Homo sapiens: one gene and its partners. The protein of the gene in region 1 purifies or fractionates together with the protein of each later gene. This does not show direct contact. Each region holds a gene or a part of one and is shown in the gene's direction. Other genes may lie near its edges. The genes, in order: SMOC1, NAF1 and UBR2.

Region 1 (8,003 bases):
TATCTCCCAAAGGACTCATCTCCCAAGGCCATCACATGGAGCTGGTAGACTTTCAACATATGAATTTCAGGGAGACATATTTAGTCCATAAGAGCCATTAATATTTTCGAGTACCAGGGAGCTGGGTCTGCAGAACTAGAGGTAAACCACAGCTTGAATGCTGTGGCCTCCTTTTGTTTGGCAACTCAAGGACGACTCATGAGGATGGCCTCTACTTCTAATTGTGTCCCAGAATTGTATCCTTTCTTAGTAACATAAACGTTGACTTTTAGCTGTACACATGTGGTCACCTCCAATTAGGATTACATTTTTTAAAGCCCTTTTTTGCTGAATGTGGTCATATGACCAAGTTCTAGCCAATGAGACAAAATGAAACGTGACTTCTGGGAGGTGTCCTTAAAAAGAGGAGCATGCTCTTCTTTCCTCTTTTTCCTTCCTGTTGGCTGGAAAATAGATATGATGGCTGGGGCTTAAGCAATCATCTTGTACCACCAGGTAGAGCTGCTTATTATGACAGAGAAATAATAGAAGGAGCCTGGCTTGGAGGAAGCTGCCCGAAACTTTCAATGGAGTTGTGTACCAAAGAGAGAGCTAAATTTCTAAATTGTTTGTCACTCGAATTATTTTTGTCATGTGTATTTAAAGCTAAAGGAGTGACTTTGGTAAGGTTAAATGTCTGCGGGTAAACTTCATTTGCACACTGGGACTAATAATACTTACCTTAGCCTAATGCTAAGGTTACAGCAAGTTAGTCATAAATCTAAAAGCAGAACCTAGGAATCTTAATGTCTCAAGCTTCTAAGCTCACTAGTGTTTTTGACAAAAGTCTTGGACCTTAGATACAGTGTACCTCTTTCCATTGGTAGCTATTGTAACAAATGAAGCAAATATAAATCAGGATATATTTATGTTATAGAAGCACTCTGCTCCAGAGCCTCATTCAGGATCTACCTCCATCATGAGACCTTCCTGCCCATTAGGCCTACAGTGGGTCATCTCACTCTGAGTTCCTACAACACACTGCAGGCTTTACTCTTTTTTTTTTGAGACGGAGTCTCACTCTGTCGCCCAGGCTGGAGTGCAGTGGCGCAATCTCGGCTCACTGCCAGCTCCGCCTCCCAGGTTCACGCCATTCTCCTGCCTCAGCCTCCCCAGTAGCTGGGACTACAGGCGCCCGCCACCACACCTGGCTAATTTTTTGTATTTTTAGTAGAGATGGGGTTTCACCGTGTTCGCCAGGATGGTCTCCATCTCCTGACCTTGTGATCTGCCCTCCTCGGCCTCCCAAAGTGCTGGGATTACAGGCATGAACCACCGTGCCTGGCCAGCTTTACTCTTAAATGTGGTCCCCAGGTATCTCTCTGGTCTGTGTCTTAAATTAGATGGTAACCTCTCAGAGGGCTGGGTGTGCATCCAAAGATCCATCATAATAATGAACATTGTGCAAGGCGTAGAAGGAGGTGCATCAAAGTGCTTACTAAAAATGGATGAAAAGATTCTATTCTGAAGATGAGATGAGGAAAGAATCCTCTGGATTATATAGAAACACAGATATATATATATATATTTCTTTTTTTCTAGATGGAGTCTCGCTCTGTTGCCCAGGCTGGAGGGCAGTGGTATGATCTTGACTCACTGCAACCTCCATCTCCCAAGCAATTCTCCTGCATCAGCCTCCCGAGTAGCTGGGATTACAGGCATACACCACTGCACCCGGCTAATTTTTCTATTTTTAGTGGAGATGAGGTTTTGCCATGTTGGCCAGTCTGGTCTCAAACTCCTGGCCTCAAGTGATCTGCCCACATCGGACTGTCAAAGTGCTGGGATTACAGGGGTGAGCCACCGCGCCTGGCCAGAAACACAGATATATTTGAAACTGGCATTTCTAGTTAGTACTAAATATTTGAGGCCTTCAGACCTCAATCTGTGATATAAAGTATTAATTTTCATCTACTGAAATATCCCATTGCAAATAGAAGTCCCACAAGACAAGGAGTATGACTGAAACTGGACAAACCAGATGCCAAGATAGTCAGATTATTTTTGGACCATGAGTCTGGCCTCCAGGGAAAGAAGAAACTTGTCAATTTTACTTTTTTTGCTTGGATCAGAAGATTAAGCCTGGCAGAGAGATACTGTTTGGGACTAGTGGTTCTCTGGAATTCCTAACCTTCTCTGGGCTTGGGAGGAGTTGGGAGAAGAAAATGCATCATCTGAATGATGGCCATGGTTACAACAGGCCTCATATGCCAACCAGAGGGAAAGAAAATACTTGCTGAGCAGAGTAACTGGAAAGCAGTTGCTCATAGTTTGAACTAAACTACATGATTGAAATCCAGAATAATGTAGATTTTTGGACCAGTGAACACTTGGAAATAAGCTTTCTGGCTGGAAAGCAGCATTTGATGTTAGGGATGGAAAGGGCTATTGCAATGCTTTTTCCCTGGGCACTTTGTGCTGCCAGATACTCAGGGCCATCTGAAGCATATTTACTTACTCCAGCAGATTTCTCAATAGTTCCAGCAACAGGAAGGAGTTGACCAGCTTGATAGGTGAATGTAGCCAGGTGGTAGAGTCAGGAAAAGCCTGTCACACTGCTGAGCCCGATGGTAACAGTTCCATCCTGTTGAGCCCCTGGAGGGTGAACACTTAGGTGGACACATGGATATTGATGTCAGTGCTGCACAGGGCACGGTACTGGACAAGTGTCACAAGTCCAGCTGGGCAAACTCCAGGATGCCAGGTCACAAGGGCTGTTTCCAGGAAGGGCTGACCCCTGATGTTTACATCCTTTTCCTCTGAAGCTCAGTGGAGCTCACCAGTCTCAGTTCACCTTGTAGGCCACTGAAGAAATTCCCAATTAGCACAGAGGAACGTCCAACCCTATGGGATTTGAGACTGGAGATTGCAGCCATCACATGATGGAAGCAGAATTAGACTCCAAAAACCTTGCCTTGAGTCTCGGCGTCTCGGCTCTGTCATTTGCCAGCCAAATGAGGCCAGGCAAGTCACAATCTCATGGAGTATTCACTTATCTACCTGTAAAGTAGGAATGTCTGACCTATTTCAGAAGATTGTTCTGAGGATAAAATGAGATGAGGCATTTGTCCTGTCCTCTTCAAATGCCATATTGTGATACTTTTCACTTAATTATTTTAAGGGCTTTAAAGACTCCATCTCCTTTACTTTTGACAACATCTCATGGCAGGGGATACTATTTTTATCCCCATTTTACAGAGAGAAAAACGGGACCCTGGATGAGTCAAGTGACTTCTTCAAGCTTATACCACTAGGTGGCAGACTCAGGATTTGAACCCTGCTGTACAGCTCCAGAGTCTGTCTGACCAAAGCACTCATTCCCAGTGGAGGAAAAGATAGACCATTCTTTTAGAAGTGCGCTTCATTTTTGTTTGGAGAACCACAAGTACTTTGTTATTGTTCCAGCATCCAGTCTGAGCTTTCTTGTCAGAGGGCAATGGGGAGAGGGGAAGTCGTTTAAGCAGGGAATGGTGAGTTCCGGTTTGCTGCTTAAAAGGATCACTGGCTTCTAAATAGCGAATAGACACACTGGCTGCCGTGTGGAGGTTGGATGGGGCCAGTGTGGAGAGAGGGCAAAACTGAATTCAGGAGTCAGGTGCGAAGCTGTTTCATGGAATCCAGGAGAGAAGCCCTGAGGGAGCAGAGCTAATCTTAGGACCTCTCAGACCAGATAGGGAGGGGGAGTGTGGCACTGATGCTTACAATCAAATTATAGAAAAGAATCCCTCCCTGCGAAGTAGCCCATACTGATGGAAGTAAGCACTAAAGGTTGTTCTCCACATAAGGAGATCGCTCTGGGTTTCATTTTGCGCCCCCCCGCCCCCTTCCCTGTGATTTCCTGGAGATGTCAGTCTCACTGAAGGCAGCTGAGCACCTTGCTCTGTTGAGGAGCCGGTGTGATGCAGCTGTGACCATTCCCAAGATGGCCTTCCGGGGATGGCCCTGGGCAGAGCCCCCCAACATCTGACTGAAGCTCCGCTGAGCTGTCCTCTCCAAGAGGGTCGGGCACCCGGGAGAGATCTCCTCTCCTTGTTCTACCCCATCTCTGGGATCTCTGCATCCTCAGACTGCCGCCTCCTCATCTATACTTTTCCTCCTTGTCTCCCATCAGGGGACCAGGGCCTCTCTGCCCGCCTCTTCCAGAGCTGCTGGGCTATAGAGAGGCTGCCCCTTGCCCTCCAGTTCAGAGGGGGAAGCTAGGATGCCTGAGTTCCAATCCTGGATCATACGGACCATAGGGCTGGGAGATGTGTGTGTGTGTGTGTGTGTGTGTGTGTGTGTGTGTGTGTGTGTGTGTGTGTGTAGGGGGTTACCGTACCCAAGAGGCCCTCCCCAGCGGCCAATGCCCAGCACACGCTTCACCTTGTCCCTTGCGACTTCTCCCGGGGCAGCCGCTGTGAGACTCAGGATGTCACCTCCCAGGGAGAGTCTTTGAAAGAAGTGGATGCTCCCATTCCCCACTCCAACGCCACAGCCCACCCTGTGCGGGTCATCCAGCGACTTCCCAGTTACTCTTCCCAGATGCAGCAGGGAGGCAGATCTCTCGGCGCCTTCGTGTCACAGCATTCTCATCTGATAAATGGGGCTAGGAGTATTTTCCCTGCCTACTTCACCAGGATGTTGGGACAATCACGAGCTTGAGCTAAGAAATATACATGCTTAAGGCATTATTATTAGCCAGGTGAGCCTTCTGGTGGGTGCCGGCTGCTGGGGCTCTCTCAGGCTTCCTCGGGCAGGAGTGCCGGGAGAAAGTTACTCTTTATCCCACTCTCTCCCGGGGCCTACTCCCGCGGAGCTCCTCGGCGGGGGGTTGACCACGAGTGGCTCCTCTTGCCCCTCTCCCATTGGCTTTCACCTGCCAGAGGGTCGGCTTCAACAGGCCTCTTGGCCCGTCAATCAGGCCCGCCGTGCTCCGCCCCGCCCCTCCCGGGGGTTTATAACGGGAATTCCCATGGCCCGGGCTCAGGCGTCCAACCTGCTGCCGCCTGGGCCCCGCCGAGCGGAGCTAGCGCCGCGCGCAGAGCACACGCTCGCGCTCCAGCTCCCCTCCTGCGCGGTTCATGACTGTGTCCCCTGACCGCAGCCTCTGCGAGCCCCCGCCGCAGGACCACGGCCCGCTCCCCGCCGCCGCGAGGGCCCCGAGCGAAGGAAGGAAGGGAGGCGCGCTGTGCGCCCCGCGGAGCCCGCGAACCCCGCTCGCTGCCGGCTGCCCAGCCTGGCTGGCACCATGCTGCCCGCGCGCTGCGCCCGCCTGCTCACGCCCCACTTGCTGCTGGTGTTGGTGCAGCTGTCCCCTGCTCGCGGCCACCGCACCACAGGCCCCAGGGTAAGTGCGCCCCCAGCTTTGCGCCCACCTGCGGAGGGAGGGGAGGTTGCTTCCCCCCTCATCCCTGAGGGAAGGAGGAGGGGGAAGAGAGATGTCAGAGACCTGTTGTCCTCTGTCTACTACCAGGTCCCCTGCGGGCTTGGTGAAGTTGCTGAAATATTTTTTTTCTCCCATTGGAGCCACCACCACTCTCCCTTTCTTGACCCACCATCCCTCCCCTGTCCCCGAACTGTCACTGGTGGGTTTTCTTTCCCAATCTCTTCTCTCCTGCATTTTGCTCAAGACCCTCAGAGGTGCCTCCTGCGTCGGAGAGAAGCTCGCTCTCCGCTCATGCAGGGCTTCCCTGTGGTCTCACGCTGGCGCCCGGTCCAGCGCGCTGGAGTTGTTGGCAGGCGGCGGGGGTTGGGACGGGGGCGGGTGCAGCTCTGCCTGGAGAGTTTTAGGTTACCCGCGAGCCACACAAGGACCTTGTGTTGTTGTTTTAAAAAGCGATCACTGCTCGTAAAACCCACAGCAGATAATTTTAATGTCACCTCCTGCCGGGCAGGCACTGGAAGAGGGTCAGAGGTGGGGTACTGTAAAGAGGTGGGAGGGGAGAGTTGCGCAATGTTCAGGGGTCTCTCCCCCTGGGTTCAGTGCTGGGAGGTTGAATTACTCGTTGAACCTTGGTCTGATTGGAGTTTCTGAACGACATGAAACCTGCCAATTCTGTGCACAGGACAGATTGTCCAGGGCATTGTAAAATCTCCTGGAACCGACAGTATTGTGTTCATTTCTGGTCTAGATTATCCCCGCAACACCCCCCACCAATTGGTCTAATAAAGAATTTCACTGCCTTGAAACATGTACTATTAAACGACCTAGTGGTTCTTTTGACCAAACTTAATCCAGGCAATCTCTGGCCAAGCATCAGTTTATGTCAGGGCAATTGACTCTTAACTGGCAGCCTGAGAGTCCATGTGAAAGTAGCTAGGATCTTTGTGAAAACAAGGTTGGCTCAACCAACTCGTGCTTTCTTTCTTGAACATCCTTGGGCCTGGCCCTTTACCACCTGTTCAGATTGCAGGTTGTTTATTCATAGCTTTTACTATATGAGAATCATCTTTATAGCTGTCGTGTGGAGAAAAAGTCTTGCAATGCTTGACAAGTCTTAATGACTGCCCAGATGCTGGGTTGATTACATCCAAGCCCAGGTATCACTGTGAGATCAGATTTGCAGCCATTTAGGAAAGAAAAGTGTTTGTCCCCGTGTTGGGCCAGCCCTTGCTTTTATGACCAGATGTGCAACAGCAGCAGTTAAAGTGTGGCAGATTAGATCCAGGGCGTGTCATAAATCCTCGACAGCAGGCATTCCCAAAGCTGGGGCAAGTAAGGGCTCCAGGAGTGACTTTTATGGATGCAGATGAGGATGCCTTTTAAATGAAGCTGCTTGGTTTGATATTAGGACTCAGAGCTCTTAAACTCTGAGGTCAGGCGAGCCATGCGTTCCCTCCAATAATTAGGAACAGTCAAGACAGAGATGCAGACCAGAGCACCCCGACTGAAATCTGGATGGCCGCCCACAGGAGGGTCGAAAGGAGAGAGGCCCTGAGACAAATGGTGGGGGGCTCGTTTGTTTGCTGCTGGGCTTGTCTAGAGTCTCAAGCCATATGGCTCTCCTTCCTGGCCTCCTGGAATCAGAGGAAGCAACCTTTAGGGGAAAGCTAGGGACTTGAGGGGAAATCAGGCACCGTGGTTAGGTTCCTTCCAGCTCCTCTAGTTTATTAATTTGATAGAAGTGATGGAACGTAAGCAGGAATTGTAAATAGGCTGGTGTATGTCCAAGCTGCTTCACACTCTCTCTCTCCTTCTTTCTTTTTTTCCCTCTTTCTCTCTCTCACTCAAATACATACATGCACAAACACACACACACATGTGCACACACATCTTGGTGTGTTTAGAAAGTACCAAGGAGAAGGTGCTGTCTCGAGCATGTGGTTACCTGGTTGTGTTTATAGATAACAATAAGAGCTACCACTTATGAACATCTGGGCTGGGCACTTTACATGATCTCTTACTCGAACGAGAACAAGAAGTTGGGTCTTTTAAAAGCCATTTTACAGATGACAAAGTGAGACTCAGGGTGGCCAATCGACTTGCCTGAGCTTCCAGTTTATATGGATTGAAAAGTTGTGTGCTCTCCCCACCACCAGGCAGCTATAGTGAGTGTTCATCCGAGTGATGCTGTTTCTGTTAAAGAAAGAGATGGCTCGATGAGAAATACAGAACCCGGATACATCAGGGGAGTCTGCAGAGAAATTGTTAATATTTTTTTGGTGTCTGTATCACTTAAGGCAAATGACTGAATTTCAACCTATCCCCAAAGACTCCAGTTCTTTTCTATGGCTTATTGGGGGCCTCAAAAGTGTAGCTCTGGTTGTTGAGAGCGGCGTCATCCGAGGAGCAGAAACATCTGGCTTGTTGCATTATTCCCTGTGGGCGCTCCTAAGTCTCTTCTGTTAATCTTTTGAGTGACAGAGGCTTAAGGATTGGCATCTTTTCCAGCTGGCTTTCTAGGAAACCAAGAGCATGCCCTTTCAGTTTAACTTTATCTGGCTCACTAATTGAGCTCCCCCGAGGCCTAGACCCCAGTCCTCGC
Region 2 (7,866 bases), on another chromosome or scaffold:
GGCTGGTCTCAAGCTCTTGGCCTCAAGTGATTCTCCAGCCCTCAAGCAAGCTTCTGCCTTGGCTCCCCAAAGTGCTGGGATTACAGGCATGAGCCCCTTGCCCAGCCAGTATTACAGATTTTTGATACTTACCGATTTAACCTTGGCCATTTTAGATGTTTAAAGCAATCGTAAATCATGATCTGTGTTTCTAATTTTACTGAGGTATGAATCAGGTTTATGCCCACTTGGAGGGTTCTATACAGGTATGAATCACTTAACCAGTGAATGATCCTTGCTTAGTATCTGAATTGAAATGGAATTATGTTTTCTAATTAATGTTATGTATTTATGTGATTTCAGTTAAGGCTCTGAATATTCACTTAATGTTCTGAATTAAGTTTTAGAGTATCTATAGCATCTTATTACTGGAATTACATGTTTTAAACGTGTTTAGAGATTCATAAACATCTCAAATCATATTTCTTTTAAAATCCAGATATTCTTTTTTTCTTTTTTTGGGTAGGGGATGGAGTTTTGCTCTTTCTGCCCAGGCTGCAATGCAGTGGCACGGTCTCAGCTCACCGCAAACTCTGCCTCCGGGTTCAAGCAATTCTCCTGCCTCAGCCTCCTGAGTAGCTGAGATTACAGGCGCATGCCACCACGCCCAGCTAATTTTGTATTTTTATTAGAGACGGGGTTTCACAATGTTGTCCAGGCTAGTCTTGAACTCCTGACCTCCAGTAATCCACCCCTCTCTGCCTCTCAAAGTGCTGAGATTTCAGGCGTGAGCCACCGCACCTGGCCAAAATCCAGATATTCTAATGAATCCCTCTTGTTTCGGACCTAAGCATTGAAGTTACCAATTACAACAATGCGAGTTATTTGTAAAATTGGTTTGACTAGGTTAATTGCAAAATTACATCTCACCTAGTTCATGGTGTTTGTTTTTTCCAGGTAGCTTGAACTGGATCATTAAGTATCTTGGGATTTAATTTTGTAATATTTGTTGGTGAAACTTTGTAGTCTAGAATTATTGCCTGGTATTGATCATAGATTAAAATTAGAAATTTGTGAGGTTTAAACTTAAAAAGAGAAAAAGGAGAAACATTGCGTGATGTGAAAATAGAAAGCTTGCATAAAGGAAAATAAGAGAAATTATGTGCTATGAAATGTTGGGCTGCATAAAGGACCTAAAAATTACCTACGGTTGTATCATGTTCATCTTCATAGCCATTTTTAATATGCCACCGTATACTTTATGGTTGAATAAATGTATTTAATGAATGGAAATTTGAATTAATTTGCATATAAGAAACATGAATTTTTCTCTGATTTTAGGAGTGATAGCAAAATACTACCAGAGTAATCTCTCTGAAATAAACTATTCCCAATTAAAATCCTTACTTCCTCCCTCCTGCTCTTAAGATGATGTTCAATTATTTAAAATGGCACAATAAGGTTCTTTGTAAGCTTCTCCAATTTTATTTTTTCTGGTTTTGCCATGTAAGAAGCAGCAGCTTTCACTTTGCCTTTCAGAACCATTTTTCTTTTTTGTATATACTGTTCTATCATGCCTCTGTGTGTATTGTTCACATTTTCTGAAAATTCCCTTTATTTTCATAGCTAACTCATTCAGGTATTTCTGTTGGGTTATCCATACCAAGAAGTCTATCTTTTCCTTTTTTCTCTTTATCCAGCACTATAATAACATAGCATTAAGTCGTAGCACTTGTTCATTGTACATTTAATCTGTTTTCTCAGAAAAAGGAGTCTTCTATCTGATCTCCATACTTTCTAGTGTCTTTCAGATACCAGATTTAACCTGAGTTTTAAAATCTTATCGTATTAAGATCAGTAATAAGAAATTATGCATTGGAAGGCATACAATTAGTTCATGTTTTCAAATTAGATTTCAGAATCTGAAGTGTATGGATTCCTGGTTCATGGAGGATTTGATCTAGAATGTATTCCAGTGAAGCCATACTGAAAATTACATACAAAGACTTTCATATACATTTTATTTCTTCTTTTTAAATGTGTATCCATCCATATATGGTGGGCCTGCTTTCATATATTTTTTGTATGAAACATAATAGACGTTTTCTGGCATTAATAGAATAATAAATTAATAGAATAATTAATAGAATAATAAAATGCCTGAACTATAGATGACAGTCATAATATATATAGCTCATAATCTTGGTTTTCTTGGTGGACTATAACAATGAATCCTAATAATTAGTTAATGTGAGTTTTACCACCTTTAATTTTTAAATAATTTCCTCTTAGGAGTTGGATCATTCATGTATCTGCTTATAAAAGCCTTTGCCATGTTGATCAGGCTGGCCTCAAACTAAAAATACAAAAATTAGTTGGGCATGGTGGCGTGCGCCTGTAATCCCAGCTACTCAGGAGGCTAAGGCAGGAGAATCGCTTGAACTTGGGAGGCAGAGGTTGCAGTGAGCTGAGATTGCACCACTGCACACACACACACAAAAAAGCTTTTGCCTATGGTTTTATCTAAATAGCTTCCCCATGATTTGTATACCCTTATTTTGCCTTATTTATTTATAACTCTTGCTCTGTACCTAAAATTATATTTAAAAAATAAGATGGTAAACCTGTAAAGAATGAACCTGTGAAATGTTTAGAACAGTGCTTGGGTGTGTATTTTGAATGAATGAATTATGGAACATTGTCTTCTGTTTTTTATTGGCTCTGATAATATATATAATTTGCTTAGTCCTTGATACTCTTACCTTTGGCACCCTTTTGCATCTGATACTATGATGAATTTTAAGTCTAAACTGGAAGTCAGACTCATATCTGAAGGCTGATTACTGGCCTGTGTTAATTAAAGTCATTAAGCATTTATCAAAAAATGCTTTATTTTTATACCATGTCTAATTCAGATATAGAAAATATTAAGTATCAAAAAGACAACTTTTTTTAGAGTCATTGATGCATAATAGGCTTATTTTCTTCACCTCCAAGTATGTACTATTGAATTGGCAAATTCATGTAACATAAACCTATTATATACTTTTCTCTGCAAGGCCTTAGATTTTAGTGATGATGAAAAAGAGAAGGAAGCCAAACAGAGGAAAAAATCTCAGATTCAAGGCCGGAAAAAACTCAAATCTGAATTTAATGAGCCTGGTGAGTGAATACAATATATATACTCGTTCTTTATCTTCATTTACATCTATATAAGTTTATCAATAATAAAACTGAAGGAAACATCTGGGTTCTCTCTGTTTACCTCCTAGCATCCTGCTAACATTTAGAGCCATTACATAGCAGGAGGTGTGGTAGTTTTATGAGCTTAAGCAGTAAAAATGGCTTCCTGGGGTAACAGAGAGACTAAACCTTGTTACTCGTGCTTGTCAGCACTTTTTTCTTAAGATACCTATTTGCTTCCATTTTTAGGATTTTATGATCAAGTACTTGATGAACCCCTAAATCACAGTGTCTTATTTTTAAACATGCATTCCCTTTACCTTTTTTGAAAATTAAACTTTCTGAGATAACCATAGATTCACATACAGTTGTAAAAATAATAGGAGAGGTGCTGTATGCCCTTTATTCAGTTTCCCCCAGTTGCAACATCTTGCATAACTATATATGGAACACTGTCCCAGCCAGGATATTGACAGTTATACAATGAAGCTATACAACATTTCCATCACCAGAGAGCTACCCAGTTGCCTCTTTATAGTCACAGCCACGTCCTTACCTCTCAGCCCCTCCTTCACTCATGGCAACCATTAATGTGTTCTCCATTTTCATATATTTTGTCATATCCAGAAAGTTATATAAGTGAAGTTATACACTGTAGTACGATTAGGGAAAGGCTTTTGCCACTGAGCGTAGTATCTGTGCATCCACCCACATTATTGCATGTATCAATAATAGTTTGTTCCTCTTCATTACAGAGTAACATTTCATGGCATGAATTTACCAGATTACCTAACCATTCATCCATTGAAGGACATCTAGGTTGTTTCCATTTTGGGGTTATTAGGAATAAAGCAGCTATAAATATTTATATACAGGTTTTTTGTGAAAAGAGGTTTTCATTTTTCTGGAATAAATGCCCAAGAGTATAATTGCTTGGTTGTATAATAGTTGCATTACATGTTTAGTTTCCTAAGAAACTACCATACTGTTCTTCAGCATGGCTATACCATTTTACATTTTTATCAGCGATGTATGAGTGACAATTTCTTTGCATTTTCTCCAGCATTTGGTGTTATCACTGTTTTTAATTTTGGCCATTCTGCTAGGTTTGTAGTGCTAATATAATTGTGGTTTTAATTTGCATTTTCCTAATGGCTAATGGCATTGAACATCTTTCCATGTGTTCATTTACTATCGGTATCTTCAGTGATATGTCAGTTCATTATCTTTTGCCAACTTTTAAATTGTATTGCTGGATTTTTACTGTCGAGTTACGAGAATTTAAAAATGTATATTTTAGATACTAGCTTTCTGTCAAATATTTGGTTCGTTCATGATTTGTTCTAGTCTGTAGTCTTTTCCTTCTTTTAAGATGGCCTTTTGCAATACTAAAGTTTTTAGTTTTGAGGAAAACTAATTTATCAATTTTGTTTATGGAATCTGAGAACTTCCTGCTTAGCTTTAGATCCTAATGATTTTCTTCTATTTTTTCCCTAAAAGTTTTGTAGTCTTCTGTTTTAAATTGTACACTTGTGATTCATTTTGAGTTAAATTTTGTATAGAATGTGAGGTTAGTCTTAAAATTGCGTGGAGTGATAACTCCTACTTTATTTCTCTTTTTCAAAATTATAATCGGTATTCTAGGTCCTTTACCTTTCAGTATAAATTTTAGAATCTTCTCTACATCAACAAATGTCTTGCTGAGGTTTTTTTGTTTTTGTTTTTGTTTTTGTCTGTTTTTTGAGATATTCTTGCTCTGTTGCCCAGGCTAGAATGCAGTGGTACAATCATAGCTCACTGTAACCTTGAACTTCTGAGCTTTTTTCTTTCATTCTCCTGATAGTATCTTTCGTGGAGCAGAAATTGTTAAGTTTAATGAAATTCAGCATATTGATTATTTCTTTCATGGGTCATGCCTTTGATGTCCTATCTAAGAAGTCATTATCTAAAAAGTCATTATTGGCCGAGCGCAGTGGCCCAATGCCTGTAATCCCAGCACTTTGGGAGGCCGAGGCAGGCAGATCAGGAAGTCAGGAGTTCAAGACCAGCCTGGTCAACATGGTGAAACCCCATCTCTACTAAAAATACAAAAATTAGCTGGGCATGGTGGCGCATTCCTACTTGGGAGGCTGAGGCAGGAGAATTGCGTCAGCTGGGACCCGGGCAGCGGAGGTTGCAGTGAGCTGAGATCGTGCCACTGCACTCCAGCCAGGGCTACAGAGCGAGACTCCGTCTCTAAAAAAAGAGTCATTATCAACCCAAGGTTGTCTAAATTTTCTTCTATGTTATCTTTTAGGAATTTTGTAATTCTGCATTTTACATTGAGGTCTGTGGTCCATTTTGAATTAATTCTTGTGAACGGTGTAAGGTTATTGTCTAGATTTATTCTTTTTGCATGTGGATGTCCAGGTGTTCCAGCCCCATTTGTTGAAAACACTACTTATGCTCTGTTGTATTGCTTTTGCTCCTTCGTTAAATATCCGTTTATTATGTTTATGTGGGTCTATTTTTGTATGTTTATGTGGGTCTATTTTTGTACCTTCTATTTTGTCCCATTGATTTATTTGTGTGTCCTTTCACCAGTACCACACTGCTGTGATTACTTAAACTTTATAATACGTCTTGAAGTTGGGTAGTTTCCGTCCTCCAGCTTTGTTCTTCTCCTTCAATATTGTTCCATTGAGTTTTTAATTTTGGTTATTGTAATGTTCAGTTCTAAAATTGCAATTTGTTCTTTATTTTATATCTTCTTTTTTTCCTAAAACTTTGTAATTTTAATTTTTTAGAATGTTCATAATATCTTGTTGAAGCATTTTTATGACTGCTTTAATACCTTTCATAATTCTAACATCTTTGTGACACCCTTGCTTGATTTATTTTTTTCATTGAATTTGAAGTCTTCCTGGTTCTTTTTGTGATGAGCAATTTTCTTTTATTGCAACCTGGGTATATTGAGTATTATATTACAAGACCATGGATCTTATGTAAATCTTCTGATTTAGCTGGGTTTGTTGTGATTGTTTCTTTGTCTTTTTAAAAATGCTACTCTGGCAGCGAAAGGAACAGGGTAGATTGAAGTCTAGGTATTCCTCTTAGCCTCTGTTGACACCTTTGGCCAAGGGGTGCCTTGTTACTGCTGGATGAGGGTAGAAGTTCTGACATCCCACGAGGTCTTATGCCTGGTAGGGACAGGAGTACTTTGTCACTCCTCCCCATATGGTATGCACTGACACCAGTGGAGGATGGCCTTGTTATCACTGGTTGGGGACAAAAATCCTAACTCTACTCCATCTTCTCTGACATTGCCCCAGTGTAAAAGAGGGAAGAACACTGGGTTGCCGCCAGTGGAGGTGGAAGTTCAGGTTCCCCATGTGATGTTCATTGTTTGCAGGGAGGCTTGTTACTGGCACCCTGTTCAGCCTGTTCCTGATGCTACTGTGGTGGAAGGGTTGGAGTACCTCATTACTGCCTGTCAAGGATAGAAGTCTAGGATCTGTACTCAGCCTTTGAGAGTGTGTAGGGATGGTGCCACATTTTCTTCTGTGGTGTTTGGCTAGAGTAGAATGGTTATCATCTAAGTGTTTTCTGACTTGCTGGGTTCTCTTTCTTTGGCATTAAGTTTTGTCTTTTCAGTTCATTTCAAATTTACCATTTTATGTCTTACACTTTTTTAACTGCCACAAGATATACTGGATAATAAAAATCATAATTGAAATTTCAAACAATGCTTTTTGATATATTAAACTTATTTTCCTTTTTATGTTTTCCCTCCCCTCACTCAAAGGTGAAGATTTTACTGAAGTACATCAGAATTGGAATGCTCATAGCTCTGCTTCAGAGCATGCAAAAGGATATCGTAACAGAGAATTCACACGAGGATTTTCCAGGGCCAGATACCCTCGATCTTGCCATGGCAGGCCTCCACCTCAGCATTTCTATAACTCAGAACATATGGTATCTCAGGAGACTTCAGGATTTCCTTCTCAGAGACAAAATAATCCCATTATGCCACAATACCCCTTTCCTCTTCCAGTGTTTGACATGCATAATTTTCCCCTCCGCCCTCCACCCCCACCACCACCCCCACCTGTAAACATGGGTTGGGCTACACCAAACATGGCTGCTCATCCATTACTTAACTTACCATACTCCCTACCCCCACCCCCTCCCCCTCCACCACTGCCTCCTCCACCCTCTTCTGGAGATAGTAATTCTCATTTTGGACCTTACTATTAGGTGACTATGCATTTCCAGAGAAATGTGGACTTTTCATATTATGTGGTAAGGATTTTTTTTTTTCAAGAGTGATTATGGAGCTAGATTTTTAAAAACACTGTAAAATACTAAATGATTCCTTCTGTTGTAAGTTGATATATATTTGTAACCTTTGTGAAATTGTATTCATATGAAAATGTCAGCTCAAATTCTTGGGAGAACATTAAATTATGTAATATTTAATTAAAATTTTGAATTCATGCCTTCTCCCTCCCAACCCCACCCAGTTAAACTATATATATATATATATAGTAATGGATATGGGACAAGTTTCATCATGGGTAAAATATATGGAGCACATTGATTTTCTTGCTATAATCTGAATATAAGATGAAGTCCTTTTGAGAGTCTTTAAACTATTTTTATAAATTTATACTTTGGAAATCAATTTTAATTATAAATGTAATTTGTGAGTAAGTTTAAATGACC
Region 3 (8,302 bases), on another chromosome or scaffold:
ACTGCTCTTAAACTCCTGACCTCAGGCTATCTGCCCGCCTCAGCCTCCCAAAGTGCTGAGATTACAGGCATGAGCTACCGTGCCTGGCCTGCATCATAATGTATTTAACCTTATTGATGAACTCAGTGTCTCTTTCCAATGCTTCAGGTGATTTAAATAATACTGAATTATGGCCAAGAGCCGTGGCTCACACCTGTGATCCCAGCACTTTGGGAGGCCAATGAGGGCGGATGACTTGAGGTCAGGAGTTCCAGACCAGCTTGGCCAACATGGTGAAGCCCTGTCTCTACTGAAAAAAAAAAAACAAAAATTAGTTAATTAGTTGGGTGTGGTGGCAGGTGGCTGTAATCCCAGCTACTCAGGAGGCTGAGACAGAAGAATCACTTGAACCTGGGAAGTGGAGGTTGGAGTGAGCTGAGATCATGCCACCCCACTCCAGCCTGTATGACAGAATGAGACTCTCTATTTAAAAAAAAAAAAAAAAAAAGAAAGAAAAAAAATTGAGTGAAATTCCTTGGTGACAGAGTGAAACTTTGTCTCAAAAACAAACAAATAAACAAACAAAAACTCCTTTTCCCTAGCCTCCTGTACTTCTTTCTTGGATATAAAATCTTTGCTTATCTCCTCCAGTGTTTTTAATAACATTTGTAAAAGTTCTTTCCAACTTTCTGACTTGTGTCTGTTTCTTCCTTCGTCATTTTTGTTTTAGTCTCTCTTCCATAGGCTTTGCTCAAGTATCTGTACACAACCGCCTGTCTTCATATTTAAGAATGACTTACTAAAAATATGATTAGAAGTTTTATGCATGGGTGGGGTGAACTGACTATACCATTTTGTTGGGGTCTTATCCTCTACAGAATTTTTTTTTTTTTTTTGAGATGGAGTTTCACTCTTGTTACCCAGGCTGGAGTGTAGTGGCACAATCTCGGCTCACTGCAACCTCCACCTCCTGGATTCAAGCGACTCTCATGCTTCAATCTCCCGAGTAGCTGGGATTACAGGTGCCCACCACCATGCCCAGCTTTTTTTGTATTTTTAGTAGAGACAGGGTTTCATCATGTTGGCCAGGCTGGTCTTGAACTCTTGACCTCAGGTGATCCACCCGCCTCGGCCTCCCAAAGTGCTGGGATTACAGGCATGACCTCTACAGATTTTTTTGGTGGTGAGATAATCTACCCCTCTGGAGAAGACCCTCCCAAACTCTTGCCTGGGAGGTATAAGCCTGGCCACTAAGGTTCTCAGAGCCAAATGGGGAAATAAGCTAGGTTATCCCTGTTCACTATGTAGACTTTGATTCATCTCTCTTGAATGCAGTGCGGTATCCCTGTCCTCAGCTGTGTCTGGTGTCTCCCAGTCAAAAGGCCCTCAAGTGTAGTCACTCTAGAGGATAAAGCTCTAGTCTTCTTCCAGAGTAGGAAGTGAGATCTAACTTCTTGCTATACAGACTTTCAAACAATAAGCTTGCTTTTAGCATTGTCTTCACCCACTTTCAGAGTTACATGGTGCCTCAAATTTTTAAGTCTTTCAGGGTACTGCATATTAATTAGCTTGACTCAGTGTCTCTACTGCTAGCGGAGGTTTCAGCATTCTCTTAGTTACTTCTCAACCACTTGCTTTCCACCAAATTTTGGTGCTGTCATCCTCTCTTCTTTTCTTTTTTTCTCCCTTTACTGTCATGAGGTATTCAATCTGCCACATTTAACTGGAAGTTGGGGCTTAGCTCTTAATGCCCCCATGGGAACAGAAAACAAGACCCTGGGTCAAAGAAACATTGGAATTGCAACTGAGATCCTCTACATAAAGCCAGGGCTTTCAAAGGAATGTCGTATCAGTGAAAGGGTAGACTAGACAAAAAACCCACCAACTGGCATACAAAAATGACAAAGAAGCTCTTTACCTTGACTCTGAGTAGGAAAAAGAACTCTCCTTAAAAATTCATAGACAGGCCGGGCACTGTGGTTCACACCTGTAATCCCAGCACTTTGGGAGGCTGAGGTGGGTGGAACACCTGAGGTCAGGAGTTTGAGACCAGCCTGACCAACATGGTGAAACCCTGTCTCTACTAAAAATACAAAAATTAGTCAGGCATGATGGTACGTGCCTATAATCCCAGCTACTTAGAAGGTAACTATGCTCACCACTATACCACCAACGCATCTAATCCCAGCTACCTAGGAGGCTGAGGTAGGAGAATCGCTTGAATCCGGGAGGCAGAGGTTGCAGTGAGTCAAGATTGCACCATTGCACTCCAGCCTGGACAACAAAGTGAGACTCTGTCTCAAAAAAACAAAAATTATAGACAGAGAAATGGCACACAACTGAATTAATACTATTAGGGAATCTTCAAGCCTAGAAACTGACGTACAATTGGTCCTAGATACAGGATACTCCTAGAGTGCCTGGTCCTGAGTATACGATGTTTTCTAGGTTGTCTGGCCTTGCAGAAGCAAATGAAAAAGTATTTTGAAAGTATTAATACATGGAGAGTCCCACTGCTAATGCTACTAATGCTAAGTGAAGATGATCTCCAAATTCATAATTATGACACACAAGGGAAACAATTTTTTTTTGAGTCAGGCTCTCATTCTTTCACCCAGGTTAGAGTTCAGTGATACAGTCATAGCTCACTACAGGCTTGAACTCCTAGGCTCAAGTGATCTTTCCTGTCTCAGCCTCCCAAAGTAGCTAGGACTACAGACATGGGCCACCATGTTCGGCTAATTTTTAAATTTTTTTGTAGAGATGGGGTCTTGCTATGTTGCCCAGGCTGGTCTCAAACTCCTGGCCTCAAGTTATCCTCCAATCTTGGCCTCCCAAAGTTTTGGTATTACAGGTGTGAGCCACAATGCTCGGCCTGAAACAAATAATGTTAGGAAGCAAATAATGTTAAGAACAGAAATTGCCTTTACAGTCTATTAACGACTTAAATTCTATGTTAGGACAGCTCAAGAGATGTTGTTTTTGCTTCTAGGCTGGGACAATCCCAGTTTTCTTCCAAGTTGACTCTGTCCTGAGTGGATCAGTGTAAGGAAGTTGGGCAAAAAAAGAAAAATACATAGAAGAATATTTCAAGATATCTCATTATAAATATCTGTACAGATATGTGCATACTTTTTTCTGGACAGACTCATAAGACAGTGTCAAAAATGATTTTCTTTGGGGAGAGGGACTTGGGGTAAGAGGAATAGGAAGTTTTCAATTTTCCTTTTTTAAAACATTCCTTTCGAGTTTGAATTTCTGATGTTTTATATGTATATATATATATAACTTTTAAAAAGTGATAAGAAGGCTTACTTGTATTGTGAGGTTACAGGGATACAGGCAGTTTCTTATTTCCTTTTTTAAAAAACTGGTTAATATCATAGTATTGGTTTAAAAAAAATCCCAAAACAACATAAACATAAACATGTCCTAAACCTGGTCTGGCTCAGAACTTTTCCCCCCTATATGTAATTTACAACCTACTTCTGGGAATAAATTAACACACTTGACAAAAGGTATAAACAATTTTCTGACAAACTCTAGAGACTGAAGACTTCTAAGAAGCCCAGTCACCCAGCTGTCAGTCAAGAGTCTAATTACCTTTAACTAAACATAGTTTTCTTTGATAGCTAGTCTAACAATGTTTACCTATTTCTTTTTTTTTTTTTTCCTTCTTTTTTGATACAGGGTCTCAGCTGTGTCACGCAGGCTGGAGTGCAGTGGGCTGATCACAGCTCACGATGGCCTCAACTGCCTGGGCTCAAGCAATCCTCCTGCCTCAGCTTCCCGAGTAGCTGGGACTACAGGCGTGCCACCACACCTGGCTAATTTTTTGATTTTTATCAAGAGGGTCTCGCTATGTTGTCCAAACTGGTCTCAAACTCCTGGGCTCAAGTAGTCTGCCCCCCTCGGCCTCCCAAAGTGCTGGAATTACAGGCATGAGCCACCAAGCTTGGTCTGATTATCTGTAGAAATTAAATGTCTCTATCAAGAGGAAATCTTTTAATTGGCCTAATAGACTCTTTTTCCTTTGCAGCAAGATTTGTGATAAAGTTTATAAGTGGTCATCACTAAAGTTTTTGAAAAATTTTTTAAAACATGTTTTAAACCTTCAAAAAAGTGGGTAATGTTCACCTCCATTACTCGTATAAAAGATATGGGTTCGATGGATGACAGGACATAGAACCACAGGAATAGAATGTAATTCATTCATTCCTTTGACAAGTATTTGAGTGCCTACCCTATGCCAGACTGGCAAGTCCTTGAGGGTCTACCATGTGCCAGGCAGTGTTCTTGAAGCTGGGGATACAAAAATGAACAAACGAGATTCGGAGAATAAAACTACAGTTCCCACAGTATCTTTCTCTTTGGCTTTTTTCCAGGGGGCGCTGCTTTCCGCGACTGTCTTCCCATGATTCTCGTTGGGCAGAAAAGCCCCGCCCGCTTATCTGCCATTTAAGCCAGCGCCCCTTGAGAATGGACTACAACTCCCACAATGCATTCGAGGGGCACCGTGTTAGGGCGCCACCTTTTTCCCGGCTGTGCTGTACCTACAGCACCCAGAACTACAGTACCCAGAAAGCTCCGCTTCCCCTCCTGGGTGTTATTGCCCCTTTCCTGGTGCAGGACGCGGTAGTGGCCAGCGAGAGTGTCAGGCCTGGGGTTTTCTGTGTCCTTCCCTGGGTCAGGGACGAGCCAGTGACTTGACTCTTGGGCGCTAAGCTTGGGAGGGAGCGCAGGAGGCCGCTGTCCTTCCTTTCCGGTTCACGTCACCCTTCTCTCCCTCTGTTGCTCCACCTGCAGCCACTTGGACGGCTCCGGGACTGATTGCCTGGGGCAGGGGTGGCAGTCGAGGCCGCCGGGGCCGAGGTGAGGCTGCAGCTCTCCGGGCGGCGGTAGCGCTGGGGAGGAGGAGGAGAGAAGATGGCGTCGGAGCTAGAGCCAGAGGTGCAGGCCATCGACCGGAGCTTGCTGGAATGTTCGGCCGAGGAGATTGCGGGGGTGAGTGCCGGAACCCGGGCGGGTGCGTCTGCCCCTCGCAGGCCGCGCCTGTGGGGAGGAACCGACTCCTGGACGTCCTGGAGCAGCCCGACCCAGACTTGGGGAAACAGCTGTGCCGGCCCTCGCCTTGTGGGGTAATAGCCCGGGGAGGCCACCGATCCTGCCCCTCTCTTTCCATTTTCAACAGCTGCCAGAGCTGCGCTGTGCACTAACTACGTTTACTTTCCCTTTCTGCCCAGGAGAACCCACGGCTCTTCCATCATACCTCCTTTCCCCCAGCCTCCCATTAAGTCTCCCAACACATGGGCCTTTGCCCTTTATATCAGCTCTTGGAAGAGGAGAAGAGACGCTTCTTGTGTTTTTGGTATAATCGCCCTAGTTTATCTAGTTAATTGCTTTTCCTGAGACAAGCGAAGCCGTGTGCTCCTCCGACTAAACATGCCACCCTAACCGAGCCCCTCTTTTGTTTTTGGGACTGCCCCAGGCACCAAGAAGGCAAACGACACTACCCTTCGTTATCCGTTTCAGTGCTATCTTTTTTTTTTGCACCGGTTTGATTAGTTGACAACGTTGATGCATGTGTGGAAAGTTTACTGAGTATGAGAAAGTAGTCGTGGAGTCTGGGAAATTTTAAAAATATTTTTTCTAGGAGTTAGGGGTAATTGGATGGAGAACAAATGTTATATAACGTTGATAGAGCAGCTTTCAACAAATACTGTATAAGCTAAACGTGAGAACTGGTCACAGTGTAGTAGGAGCAGTTATATTCCAAACGTAAAACCGTTCAAACGCACTATTGCATTAAAACTGTAATATGAATATGCTAGTGTAAATAGCAGAGTTGTAGGAACACCCATTAGAAGAGATTGCCGAGAATGATTATGAATGGACCAAGACAGCTTGGGCCCCACCTCTAAGACCTCCAATTAAAAAGGCTGCTAGGAAGGGAGTGACCCGTGAATAAAAGTCAGCAATCTGAATGCTACGAACAAAATTTGGGATTGGGGGCACTGTGGAGCTGTTGGTCAGTGAGTAGTTATTTTGCGTGAATTGGTGAGGACATTAAGTCCGGGTAGAAAGAAATGTCAGGAGTAGAGGTGAAGACTTTAAAGAAATACGTTGTTAAATGCTGAATCTTTGCTTGTTTGGGTGTGTTTTGTTGTTGTTTGTTTTTGTTTTTGAGACGGAGTTTCGCTTTCGATGCCCAGGCTGGAGTGCAGTGGCGCGATCTCAGCTCACCGCAACCTCAGTCTCCCGGGTTCAAGCGATTCTGCTGCCTCAGCCCCTCGAGTAGCTGGGATTACAGGCATGCACCACCACGCCCGGCTAATTTTGTATTTTTAGTAGAGTTGGGGTTTCTCCATGTTGGTCAGGGTGGTCTCAAACTCCCGACCTCAGGTGATCCACCTGTTTGGGCCTCCCAAAGTGCTGGGATTACAGGCGTGAGCCACTGCGCCCTGCCTTGGTGTGTTTTTTTAAACCTACTTACTTGTTTAGCCTAGGTCTGTTTTCATTTACTTTCTACTTAATGTTGTACAACTCAAGGAATTTCTGCCTTTCGTTTATCGGAGATTTGAAAAAAGAAAATGAAAGTAGTGTTACAAGTAAACTGTTAAATAATAATGACAGCTGTTTGCTCTCCATGCCTCTTCTAATTGATATCTGTTGCTTACCTCAAAGTACTGTTTTGATTTTTTTTCTCTCACTGAATTTTGTGTCTTGGTCCAGTGATACAGGGTACAAATTCCGTTATCCCATTCTAAAAGTGCAAACTATCAAGTGATTAGAGGTTCTCCAATTTGTAGAGGCTCCTGAGGAAACTGGTTATAAAAGTAGTGCGGGAGGCCAGTGCTCCTAGTTCTTGTTCAGTGAAATTCTCAAGCAGATGCAGTAAGGAAAAATCAAGGAAAATGCAACAAAAAATTATTAATTTGGACTTCATTTGAGTTTGTGAAGATCATAATCTGAGCTACATTTTACCCTGTTTACTTTTTTTGTTTGTTTTTTTGAGACAGTCTTGCTCTGTCGCCAGGCTGGAGTGCAATGGCGCAATCTTGGCTTACTGCAACCTCCGCCTCCGGGGTTCAAGTGATTCTCCTGCCTCAGCCTCCCGAATTACAGCTGGGATTACAGGCGTACGCCACCACGCCTGACTAATTTTTGTATTTTTAGTAGACACAGGGTTTCACCACATTGGCCAGGATGGTCTCGAACTCCTGACCTCAGGTTATCCGTCCGCCTTGGCCTCCCAAAGTCCTGGGATTACAGGCGTGAGCCACCGCACACAGCCTACCCTGTTTACTTTTAAATGCCTTTCTGAACAATAAGTTTTTTTTTTTCTTTTTTTGGTAAGAGATGGGGTCTTGCACTGTTGCCCAGACTAGAGTATAGTGACATTATCATAGCTCACTGCAGCCTTGACCTCCTAGGCTCAAGAGATCCTCCTACCTCAAAAACCAATATTAAAATATAAAATTCCTTCAACTATATAACCTTAATCTTGCCTTACTTTGTGAGGACTTTACTGTCTGTATTAAGTTAAAACACCTAACATTTAAAACTGTTTTTTTCAGCTTAGGCTTCAGCTTTTTTATCACACATTTAAATTAATAAAGTTTTTTCTTAGGTTGAAAGCACATTTTAGGGAAGAGAAACAAGTAGAGAAAACAGTGATTGTAGGCTTTAGACCTCTGTCATTGGTAATTTGTTAGGATCACTTCCATTTAAAAATCACCTAATGAGCACTAGTGTCAACCTTTCCACATTTCATTTACACACCGCTTTTCTTATTCCTGTTATAAGGAGGAAGAACTTTTTGTGATCCCATCCATTCCAGCTAGTATGCCTCACAAAGAAAAGTATCTAAGCTGACTCTTTAATATTTGTAAGTTTAGGATATTACAGTGGCCCTCTCTTCTCATTCTTCTCTTTTCTTGTTAGAATTGACTCCATAAGTATGACTTTCCCAACACTTCTTGGCTCTGTTTACTTTCTATACTACATATGGTTATAGTATGTTCCAGTGAGTGATTACGGTTTTAAAAGTAAACATGCCGGGTGTGGTGGCTCTTGCCTGTAATCCCAGCACTTTGGGAGGCCAAGGAGGGCAGATCACAAGGTCAAGAGATAGAGACCATCCTGGCCAACATGGTGAAACCCTGTCTCTACTAAAAATACAAAAATTAACCGGGCATGGTGGTGCACCCCTGTAATCCCAGCTATTCGGGAGGCTGAGGCAGGAGAGTTGCTTGAACCCAGGAGGCTGGGGTTGCAGTGAGCCGAGATCGCGCCACTGCACTCCAGCCTGGGTGACAGAGCG

Evidence for each region.
Region 2: the proteins of SMOC1 (region 1) and NAF1 purify together in Homo sapiens (affinity purification with mass spectrometry; 2 studies listed by BioGRID and IntAct, with this or other methods). This does not show direct contact.
Region 3: the proteins of SMOC1 (region 1) and UBR2 purify together in Homo sapiens (affinity purification with mass spectrometry; 2 studies listed by BioGRID and IntAct, with this or other methods). This does not show direct contact.

Annotation. Positions count from the first base shown.
Region 1 is NC_000014.9:69,874,413-69,882,415, forward strand, and holds the start of SMOC1 (SPARC-related modular calcium-binding protein 1 isoform 1 precursor), read left to right. Parts: upstream 1-5,003; 5' UTR 5,004-5,266; coding exon 5,267-5,365; intron 5,366-8,003. UniProt on the Homo sapiens protein: Plays essential roles in both eye and limb development. Probable regulator of osteoblast differentiation.
Region 2 is NC_000004.12:163,128,429-163,136,294, reverse strand, and holds the end of NAF1 (H/ACA ribonucleoprotein complex non-core subunit NAF1), read left to right. Parts: intron 1-3,038; coding exon 3,039-3,141; intron 3,142-6,946; coding exon 6,947-7,398; 3' UTR 7,399-7,626; downstream 7,627-7,866. UniProt on the Homo sapiens protein: RNA-binding protein required for the maturation of box H/ACA snoRNPs complex and ribosome biogenesis.
Region 3 is NC_000006.12:42,559,415-42,567,716, forward strand, and holds the start of UBR2 (E3 ubiquitin-protein ligase UBR2), read left to right. Parts: upstream 1-4,614; 5' UTR 4,615-4,905; coding exon 4,906-4,983; coding exon of another isoform or gene 4,984-5,117; intron 5,118-8,302. UniProt on the Homo sapiens protein: E3 ubiquitin-protein ligase which is a component of the N-end rule pathway.